3 linked regions of the Homo sapiens genome follow. Each later gene encodes a partner of the first gene's protein in a complex. Each region holds a gene or a part of one and is shown on either strand. Other genes may lie near its edges.

The links.
Region 2: SNIP1 (region 1) and PLRG1 share a complex: the UniProt entries of both Homo sapiens proteins name them as parts of the minor spliceosome.
Region 3: SNIP1 (region 1) and SNRPD1 share a complex: the UniProt entries of both Homo sapiens proteins name them as parts of the minor spliceosome.

The regions. Positions count from the first base shown.
Region 1 is NC_000001.11:37,547,692-37,551,345, forward strand, and holds part of SNIP1 (smad nuclear-interacting protein 1), read right to left. Parts: intron 1-3,654. UniProt on the Homo sapiens protein: Required for pre-mRNA splicing as component of the spliceosome. As a component of the minor spliceosome, involved in the splicing of U12-type introns in pre-mRNAs. Down-regulates NF-kappa-B signaling by competing with RELA for CREBBP/EP300 binding.
Region 2 is NC_000004.12:154,540,301-154,543,954, reverse strand, and holds part of PLRG1 (pleiotropic regulator 1), read left to right. Parts: intron 1-1,675; coding exon 1,676-1,768; intron 1,769-3,020; coding exon 3,021-3,170; intron 3,171-3,259; coding exon 3,260-3,361; intron 3,362-3,654. UniProt on the Homo sapiens protein: Involved in pre-mRNA splicing as component of the spliceosome. Component of the PRP19-CDC5L complex that forms an integral part of the spliceosome and is required for activating pre-mRNA splicing.
Region 3 is NC_000018.10:21,625,776-21,629,429, forward strand, and holds part of SNRPD1 (small nuclear ribonucleoprotein Sm D1), read left to right. Parts: intron 1-3,286; coding exon 3,287-3,363; 3' UTR 3,364-3,654. UniProt on the Homo sapiens protein: Plays a role in pre-mRNA splicing as a core component of the spliceosomal U1, U2, U4 and U5 small nuclear ribonucleoproteins (snRNPs), the building blocks of the spliceosome.

The sequences.
Region 1 (3,654 bases):
CTACTGCACTCTAGCCTGGGCAACAGAGCAACACTTCACCAAACAAACAACAACAACAACCAAAAAAAAACACAAAATGGTGGTTCAGAGGTTGAGAAAAGAATAAAGTAATCATTTGGTATCCTCAGGAGATTGGTTCCAGGATCCCCAGTGGATAAAAAAGATTATCTCAGGGCCAGGTGCAGTGACTCATGCCTGTAATCCCAGCACTTTGGGAGGCCAAGGCAGGTGGATTACGAGGTCAGGAGATGGAGACCATCCTGGCTAACATAGTGAAACCCTGTCTCTACTAAAAAAAAAATACAAAAAAATTAGCCAGGCATGGTGGCGGGCGCCTGTAGTCCCAGCTACTCAGGAGGCTGAGGCAGGAGAATGGCGTGAACCCCGGGAGGCGGAGCTTGCAGTAAGCCGAGATCGCACCACTGCACTCCAGCCTGGGCAACGCAGCGAGACTCCATATCAAAAAAAAAAAAAAAAAAAAAAAGATATCTTAGGATGCTCAAGTTCCTTATATAAAAATCTGTGAATATCCTTCTGTATACTTTAAATCATCACTAGGTTATTTATAATACCTAATACAACGTAAATGCTATATAAATAGTTGTTATACTGTTATTTGTCTTTTAAAATTTGCTTTTTTTTTTAAAACAGTCTTGCTCTGTCACCCAGGCTGGAGTGCAGTGGTGCGATCTTGGCTCACTGTAATCCCCGCCTCCCAGGTTCAAGTGATTCTCCTGCCTCAGCCTCCCAAGTAGCTGGGATTACACGCGCCCACCACCACACCCAGCTAATTTTTGTATTTTTAGTAGAGACGAAGTTTCACCATGTTGGCCAGGCTGGTCTCCTGACCTCAGGTGATCCACCCGCCTCGGCCTCCCAAAGTGCTGGGATTACAGGCATGAGCCACTGTGATCGGCCCAGACTCTAATCCCAGTTACTTGGGAGGCTGAGGCAGGAGAATCCCTTGAACCCAGGAGGCGGAGGCTGCAGTGAGCAGAGATTGCGCCACTCCAGCCTGGGCAACAGAACGAGACTCCGTCTCAAAAAAAAAAGAAAAAAAAAAAAAAAAGACGACTGAATTCTCATCCCTCAAAATTGAGAATAAGGCAAGAGTGTCTGCTCTCATTACTCTTTTATCTCTCCTTGCCTGACGCCATCCGTGTGATTTGCTCCTCCTTGCTTCCCACCATGATTGTGAGGCCTCTCCAGCCATGTGGAACTGTAAGTCCATTAAACCTCTTTCTTTTGTAAATCGCCGGGTCTCGGGTATGTCTTTATCAACAGCATGAAAACGGACTAATGCAAACAACAAAAGGAAATAAAATGCATTCAGATTGTAAAGGAAGAAATAAAACTGTCCCTATTTGTAGATATGATTGTCTACGTAGAAAATCCCAAGTAATCTTAAAAAAAAAAAAAAACTAGAATACATTAGTTCAGCAAGGATATAGGATGAAGATAAACACACAAAAATGAATTATATTTCTATATAGTAACAATGAACATTTGGACACTCATTTAAAATACCCTTTATAATCATTCCACAAAGAAATATGTATAGGATTTATAAGCTGAAAACTACAACCACTGATAAAAGATATCAAAGATGATCTAAATAAAAGGGGAGATACACAATGTTCATGGATTAGAAGATTTAACATAGTAAAAAGTCAATTATTGCCCCCAAACGCCAGTTTAACACAAATCCTATCAAAATCCTAGCAAGACTTTTCTTTCAGATCTCACTCTGTCGCCCAGGCTGGAGTGCAGTGGTATGATCACTGTTCACCGCAGCCTCAACCTCCTAGGCTCAAGTAATCCTCCCACTCAGGAGCTACTCAGCCTCCTGAGTAGCTGGGACCACAGGCATGCCACCACGCCCAACTAATTTTTGTATTTTTTGTACAGATGGGTTTCACCATGTTGCCCAGGCTGGTCTGGAGCTCCTGAGCTCAAGTGATCTGCCCACCTCAGCCTCCCAAAGTGTTGGGATTACAGGCATGAGTCGCTGTGACCGGCCCAGACTTTTTAAAAATAGAGGCAAGATTGTTCTAAAACTTACATGGATGAAAAAAGAAGCTGAATAGCTAAAGCAATTTTTATAAAGAAGACTACAATGGGAAAAATCAGTCCATACAATTTCAAGACTTATTATATAGCTATAGTAATCAAGACTGTGTGGTATTGGCAGAGTGACAGACACTGACAAATGAAACAGAACAGAGATTCCAGAAATAGACCCACACAAATATGCCCAACTGATTTTTGACAAAAGAGCAAAAGTAATTCATTGGAGGAAAGATGGTCTTTTCAACAAATGGTGTTGATGCAAGTGGACATTCATAGGCAAAAAAAACAAAAACAAAACAAAACAAAACAAAACAAAACAAAAACCCTGAAACCCTGAAAAGAAACTGAAAGCAGATCATGGACTTTTAAGAAAAAAAATTTAGGAGAAAATTTCAGAGATCTAGGGCTAGGCAAAAAGTTCTTAGCCATGACATCAAAAGCACAATCCATAAAAGGAAAAACAGATAAGCTGGACTTCATTGAAATTAAAAACTTTTGCTCTGAGATAAACCCTGTTAAGAAAATGAAGACAGCTACAGACTGGGAAAAAATATTTGTAAACCATTTATCCCCAAAGGGCTAGTATCCACAATATAAAAAGAATTCTTAAACACTAAACAGTAAAAAAGCAAATAATAGTATTAGAAAACAGGCAAAAGATAGCTGGGCATGGTGGCTCACTTTGCTGTAATCCCAGCACTTTGGGAGGCTGAGGCAGGTGAATCACCAGAGGTCAGGAGTTCAGGACCAGCCTGGTCAAAATGACGAAACCCCATCTCTACTAAAAATACAAAAATTAGCTGGGCATGGTGGCACGAGCCTGTAATCTCAGCTACTTGGGAGGCTGAGGCAGGAGAATCCCTTGAACCTGGGAGGCTGAGGTTGCAATGAGCTGAGATCGCGCCATTACACTCCAGCCTGGGCAACAAGAGTGAAACTCCGTCTCAAAAAATAAAAAATAAAAAATAAAAAATAAACAGGCAAAAGACATGAGACATTGCACCTGAGAAGATACATATAGATGGCAAATAAGCACATGAAAAGACGTCCAAGGCCAGGTGCAGTGGCTCACGCTTGTAATCCCAGCACTTCGGGAGGCCGAGGCAGGCAGATCACGAGGTCAGAAGTTTGAGACCAGCCTGGCCAACATAGTGAAACCCTTTCTGTACTAAAAATACAAAAAATTAGCTGGGCGTGGTGGTGGGCATCTGTAATCCCAGCTACTCAGGAGGCTGAGGCAGGAGAATCACTTGAACCTGGGAAGGGGAGATTGCAGTGAGCCAAGATCACGCCATTGCACTCCAGCCTGGGTGACACACACACACACACACACACACACACACACTGACACACAAAGAAAAGATGTCCAATATCATAAGCCATTAGGAAAATGCAAATTACGGGAAGCTGAGGCAGGAGAATCGTTTGAACTCAGAAGGCGGAGGTCGCAGTGAGCCGAGATCGTGCCACTGCACTCCAGCCTGGGTGACAGAGCCAGACTCTGTCTCAAAAAAAAAAAAAAAAGGAAAACGCAAATTAAAATCACAATGAAATACCACTACACGCCTATCAGAATGGCTAAAA
Region 2 (3,654 bases), on another chromosome or scaffold:
TCGTGAAGTGTTCCATACTGTTTATTTTGCATTGCTTGCCTATACCAAAATATCTCATGTACTCCATAAATACATTTCTACTGTGTACCCACAAAAATTAAAAACAGAAAATTTTAAAAAAGAAAATGTACATAGTAGGAAATGTACAGCTACACATAATTTAATATGTATCTTAAAAATTTCATTTTTCAAATGATTGTACAGTAAGAGCCTTTTTGTTTGACATACAGCTCTAATGAATTGTAATAGATGTATTGATTTGGGTAACCACTACCACAATTAGGATATAGATGTTACACCACCTCAAAAAACACCCTTGTGCTATTCGTTTGTAGTTACACTTTCCTTCACCTCTGACAATCACTGATCTGTTTTCTATCACTATAGTTGTCTTATTTTTTTTCAATAATTTCAGTTCTAATTTATTTTTAATTTTTATGGCTAACATAATAGATGTGCATATTTATGGGCTACATATCAAATTTGATACAAGCATACAGTGTGTAGGCCAGGCATGGTGGCTCATGCCTATAATCCCAGTGCTTTGGGAGGCCTAGGCAAGCGCATCTCTTGAGCCTAGGAGTTCAGTACCAGCCTGGGCAACACAACAAAACCCCGCCTCTACAAAAAAATACAAAAATTGGCTATGTGTAGTGGAGCACACCTGTAGTCCCAGCTACTCCAGAGGCTGAAGTGGGAGGATCACTTGGGCTCAGGAGGCGGAGGTTGCAGTGAGCCAAGATCACGCCACTGCACTCCAGCCTGGGCGACAGAGTGACACCCTATCTCAAAACAAAAAACAAAGAAAAACATACAGTGTGTAATGATCAAATCACGGTAATTGGGATATTATTTCTTTGTATTAGGAACATTCCAATTTTACTCTTCTAGTTATTTTGAAATATACAATAAATTACTCTTAACTGTAGTCACTCTATTGTGCTACCAAGCTAACTAGCCAAACTAGTGCTACCAAACTAGCTAACCAAACTAGTGCTACCAAACACTAAATCTTACTCCCTTTATCTATTTTTGTACCCGTGATCCACCTCTTCTTTATCTTCTGCCTCCCCACTATTCTTCCCAACCTCTGGTAGCCATCATTCAACTCTGAAGATCATTTATTTTTTAGCTCCCGTATATGAGAGAGAGCACGCAATATTTGTTTTTCTGTGCCTGGCTTATTTCACTTAACATAGTATCTTCCAGTTCCATCCATGTTGTTGCAAATAACAGAATTTCATTCTTTTTTATGGCTGAATAGTATTCCATTGTGTGTATGTACCACATTTTATTTATCCATTCACCTCATGATGGACACTTAGGTTGGTTTAGCTGTGTCTTTTTGACTATGTCATATAAATGGAATCATACAATATGTACTTTTTGAGACTGGCTTCCTTCACACAGCTTAATACTTTGTGAGTCATTGAAGTTGTTGCAAGTATTAATAATGTATTCCTTTTTATTACTGAGTAGTTTACATTATATAGATGAGCCACAATTTGTGTTAACTATTAACTCACTGAAGATAATTTCATATTATTGTAAAATGTAATAGTCATTATCTTTTATGATTTGAAGATGGGAGGGCAATTCAAACTCGGGCTGCAGTTAAACTTAAATACATTTTAACTTCTACGTTGGCCTGCCCATTCTACTTTGTTTTATACAGGTTATCAGTGGGCATCTTGGCTGGGTTCGATGTATTGCTGTGGAACCTGGAAATCAGTGGTTTGTTACTGGATCTGCTGACAGAACTATAAAGGTAATAATGAAGGAAGAAAAAATAAACATGACTTTGTGTTTGTCATGTAAGTTTAATCAGTTATTATTTCCTGTGGCAGGAATTGCTATTGCAGTTCCTCTGTTATTTTAGACCTGAATAAGGAGTAAAATTTATCATTTATACTAATAAGTGTTCTAAATAAATATCTGTTTGAAAAGTGCTATTTAAACCACTTTTTCTTTACCTACTGAATACCTACCACTAATTCCTTTATACTTACATTGTTCTCTCCAACTGGTTACAAAATTAAGAGCATGCTCATTCATAGAAAATGTGGAAAATATAGAGAATTAGGAAAGTACATAGACCTGTATATAATCCTACCATTGTTAGATATTTGGATAAGTTTCGTTTTAGTATTTATTTCTGTAAGTATCAATACCTTCACTTCTAAGCTCTTTTCCTGTGTGTGTATCTTTTAAAAAATCATTCTTAGTATGTAATTTTGTATCTTGCTTTTTTCACTTAACGTTGTATCAAAGGCATATTCCTGTGAAAAATTTACCATCTTTTAAAGTGGTTGCATAATATTATATCATTTAGATAGTCTGTAATCTGTTTTCCTATTACTGGACAGTAGAGTTTTTAGTCTGATTTTCACCATTACAAGTAATGCTGTTAAGTTTTGTATATAAGACTTTTTCTGTATTTTAAATTATTTTGTTATGGTAGAGTTCCATAAATGGAATAAATGGGTCAAATATTTTTGAAGCTGATACCCAAAGTACAAATTACTTTCCAAATGGGTGAATCGATACTTGCAGTGTATGAGAGGATCCTTTTCAGCACATTGGTTGTACATTCCTTTACAAATATCTAATATGGTAAGCAAAAATGGATACTTAATCTTTTTAAAAAACTTTGTATGAAATTTCTAATGAGTGTGAACTTTTTCATATCTGTATTTGCTGCTTTTAGGATTTCTTTAAGTTGTTGCCAGCCTCAGTTAATTTAATACCATACTTTTCTTACTGTTATTATCAAAGATATCATTTATATAACAAGAAGGTTAACCTTTTGTCATCTAATTGCAAATATTTTTCCAGTTTGAGCATGCCAGTTTTTTTCTTGCTTTTATTTGGAGGGGAGTCATTTTGCAAAATTTTTTATTTTTACGTATTTGTTATCTTTTTCCTTTTGTCTTTGAAAGCTCAGTTTTAATAATCAGGTTTCTAAAATTTTGTTTTGCAGTAACCAGTGAAAGAAAAAAATAAATATTCTTTGATTGCAGATCTGGGACTTGGCTAGTGGCAAATTAAAACTGTCATTGACTGGGCATATTAGTACTGTGCGGGGCGTGATAGTAAGCACAAGGAGCCCATATCTGTTCTCTTGTGGAGAAGACAAACAAGTGAAATGCTGGGATCTCGAATACAATAAGGTAAGTTTGGAGTTAAGGATTTAAAACATTGTGAACTACTATTTATCTTTCTAATTCTAGAAGTTTTAACTTTCCTGCTTTGTCTTTAGGTTATACGGCATTATCATGGACATTTAAGTGCAGTGTATGGTTTGGATTTGCACCCGACAATCGATGTGTTGGTAACCTGTAGTCGAGATTCAACTGCACGGGTAAATGGGATAGAGTTGTGTATTTATCTGTAAATATATTGCATCTTGTAGGGTGCACTTTCGGTTTCAGTGTCTTCAATTGATTGATAGAGAATTAAAGATAGCTGTCTTGAGTCATCAATATCCTAGTCCCTAAGTTTCTTAACTTGCATTTTTTTCCACCTTAGTCTTCAGTTGTATGGCCTCACCATGTTAGTGTTATTAGTGCCCTGCCCCTGAAATGTGATATTCTCACGTTCCATTCTGTAACAACTATTGTCCATTAGTTCTTTCATTCAGTAGTCTTAAAAAGT
Region 3 (3,654 bases), on another chromosome or scaffold:
AATTTTTTGTATTTTTAGTAGAGACGGGGTTTCACCGTGTTAGCCAAGCGGTCTCGATCTCCTGACCTCATGATCCGCCTGCCTGGGCCTCCCTAAGTGCTGGGATTACAGGCGTGAGCCACGGTGCCTGGCCCAAAATCTTTTATCTACTGTGTTTTCTCTGCTTTTCTTTGTTCCTCTGGGTAGTTATCATTTTTGTTCCTTTTCTATCATAAATACTATTTCAGAAGAAATTGAAGGTAAGTGTGGTCAATTTGGCCCATTTTAACGTGTTCTAGACTTACAGTTTTTGTGTGTACACATTTAAAATAGTACGGTTTAAAATAACTGAAATTGGCCAGGTGCGGTGGCTCATGCCTGTAATCCCAGTACTTTGGGAGGCAGAGGCGGGCAGATCGCCTGAACTCGGAAGTTCGAGACCAGCCCGGGCAACATGGCATGAACTTTGTCTCTACTAAAAATACAAAAATTAACCAGGCATGGTGGCAGATGCCTGTAATCCCAGCTACTCGGGTGGCTGAGGCAGGAGAATTTCTTGAACCCAGAAAATGGAGGCTCCGGTGAGCCGAGATTACGCCACTGCACTCCAGCCTGGGTGACAGAGTAAAACCCTGTCGCCAAAAAAAAAAAAAAAAAAAAAGGAAACTACAACAAATTAAATAATGAAAATGAGTCTTCGTTTCAAGTTTGTCATAGTCTAGTGTTAGGGAGTTATTTAAAAATTATTGGTTTGGGCCAGGTGTGGTGGCTCACGCCTGTAATCCCAGCACTTTCAGAGGCTGAGGCAGCTGGATCACAAGGTCAGGAGTTCAACACCAGCCTGGCCAATGGTGAAACCCCATTTCTACTGAAAATACAAAAATTAGCCAGGTGTGGTGGCGGTCACCTATAATCCCAGCTACTCGGGAGGCTAAGGCAGGGAATTGCTCGAACCTGGGAGGCAGAGGTTGTAGTGACCCGAGATCGCACTACTGCACTCCAGCCTGGACAACAGAGAGAGACTTGGTCTCAAAAAAAAAAAAAAAATTGTTTTGTTTGTTGTTTGTTTGGTAAGAGACAAGATCTCACTGTGTTGCTCAGGCTGCAGTGAAGTGGCATGATCATAGCTCACTGCAGCCTCAAACCCCTGGCTTCAGGCTGTCTTCTGCGTTGGCCTCCCAAATGTTTGGATTTTTTTTTTTTTTGAATAAACATTTATTTTCTTTCTTTAAAAAAAAAAAAAAGAAGCAGCAGCTGGGCGCGGTGGCTCACGCCTGTAACCCCAGCACTTTGGAAGGCCGAGGCAGGTGGATCACCAGCCTGGCCAACAGAGTAAAACCCCATCTCTACTAAAAATACAAAAAAGTAGCTGGGCGTGGTGGTGGGCGCCTGCAGTCCCAGCTACTCGGGAGGCTGAGGCAGGAGAATCGCTTGAACCCGAGAGGCGGAGATTGCAGTGAGCAGTTGTTTTCTTAATTTATCTTTCTTTTTTACAGATATGCACCACCAAACCTGGCTAATTTTTTATTTTTTATTTTTTTGTAAAGACAGGGTCTCCCTATGTTGTCCAGGATAGTCTTGAACTCTTGGTCTCAAACAATCCTCCTGCTGTGGCCTCCCAAAGTGCTGGGATTATAGGTGTGAGCCACCATCATACCTGGTCCATTTTCTTTTCTTGGGTTTTTTTTTTTTTTTTTTTTTTTGAGACAGAGTCATGCTCTGTTGCCCAGGCTGGAGTGCCATGGCGCGATCTCCACTCATTACAACCTCTGCCTCCCAGGTTCAAGCAGTTCTCCTGCCTCAACCTCCCAAGTAGCTGGGATTACAGGTGCCCAGCCCTTTTGTTGTTGTTGTTGTTGTTGTTTTACAACACCCCTCCAACTCTGTTTTTCCCATTTTCTTTATTTTTTTAAACACTTCATTTTGAAATAATTTTAGACACAAAAAGTTGCAAAAATAGTACAAGGAATTCCCATACACTTTTCACCAAGATTGTCTAAATGTTAAAATGTCATATAACTACAAAAAATTAGAAATTTTACATTGATGTGTCACTACTGTATTATCTAGAGACCTTTCTCACATTTCTCTGATTGTCCCTTTAATGTCCTTTTCCTGGTCCAAGATCCAATCCAGTACAACAGGTTGCATTTACTTGTACGTTTCCTTAGTTTCCTTTAATGCGTATCAGCTGGTTCTCCTCAGTTTTCCTTTTGTGACCTTGATACTTTGTAAGAGTACGGGCCAGTTATTTTGTGAAATGTCCCTTAATTAGCATCTTAAACTTACTATTTATTGCTTAGAATGGTAAGACTAGAATCAGTGTGTACAAATTTCTAATGTGGCCAGGTGCGGTGGCTCACACCTGTAATCCCACCACTTTGGGAGGCTGAGGCTGGAGGATTGCTTTGGCCCAAGAGTTTGAGAGCAGCTTGGGCAACAAAGGGAGACCTCATCTCTACAAAAATTTTAAAAATTAGCCAGACATGATGGTTTGTACCTGTAGTCCCAGCTACTCAGGAGGCTTAGATGGGAGGATCACTTGAGCCCAGGAGTTCAAGGCTGCAGTGAGGTGTAATTACACTCCAGATGGGACTACAGAGTGAGACCCTGTATTTAAAAAACAAAAACAAAAACATTTAGAATGTGACTGACTTCTATGTCAAGATTTTCTAATATTCTTAGCTGTCTGAAGATGAAATAAGTTTATTTGGGTCATGAATTCCCTATCACCATGATACTCAACTAGAGTTAGGATGACCCAGTAGGGATATTACTATTTGGATTAAAGCACTAGATTATGTGTAGGTCAAATGAGTTTTAATTTTCTGAAGAGTTAATAAGATTGTGATTTGATGTAATACATTTAAACTTTCCTGGTTTTGAATTAACTTGCTTGGATTTTATTCAGTTACCAAAACTCTGGCATCAAGGTGATCATGTTTTATTCTGTGATATATATCTTCCCTTTTTTTGTGAGGTTCAAATCATTTTATGGTGAATTTGAGACATGATATAAAGAAAAAGTATTTTTAAATTTGACACATTTCTTAGTAAATAAATTGAAATGAAACAAATAATAATCTCCCTAGGCCTTTAGTTATTGGTTCTGCATGATAATGTGTTGGGGGGTGGAGGGAATCTGAAGTCTAACACATTTAACAGAAGCTAGTTAAACTTTATTTACTGTAGCTACTAATAAAGAGCTATAAACAGGGAAAGGTGTGTGTGTAAATGTTGTTTGTGGTGTCTAGGTAACATTGGTGCAGGAGAGAATTGAACTTGGTTTGTTTTTCTTTTCCTTCAGTTGCAGGAAGAGGCAGAGGAAGAGGAAGAGGAAGAGGACGTGGCCGTGGCAGAGGAAGAGGGGGTCCTAGGCGATAATGTCTCTCAAGATTTCAAAGTCATATGAGATTTGGGATATTTTTTGTACAGGTTGTGTTTGTTTATGTCAGTTTTTAATAAACATAAATGTGGGACAGAGCTGTCTATTTAGTATATCAAAGTTTTAGTAGTTTCCTCCACATTCACGAAATTACCACAGTGAGAGCTAAGCATTTCTACTGGGCAGTTTCATTTTTAGTTGATCAGGTTTTAAGTTTTTGAACTAAAATTTTTCTTTTTCTTTTTATGATGAATAAGGTTAAAATAAAAGCCTTAGACAAATTAAATTTG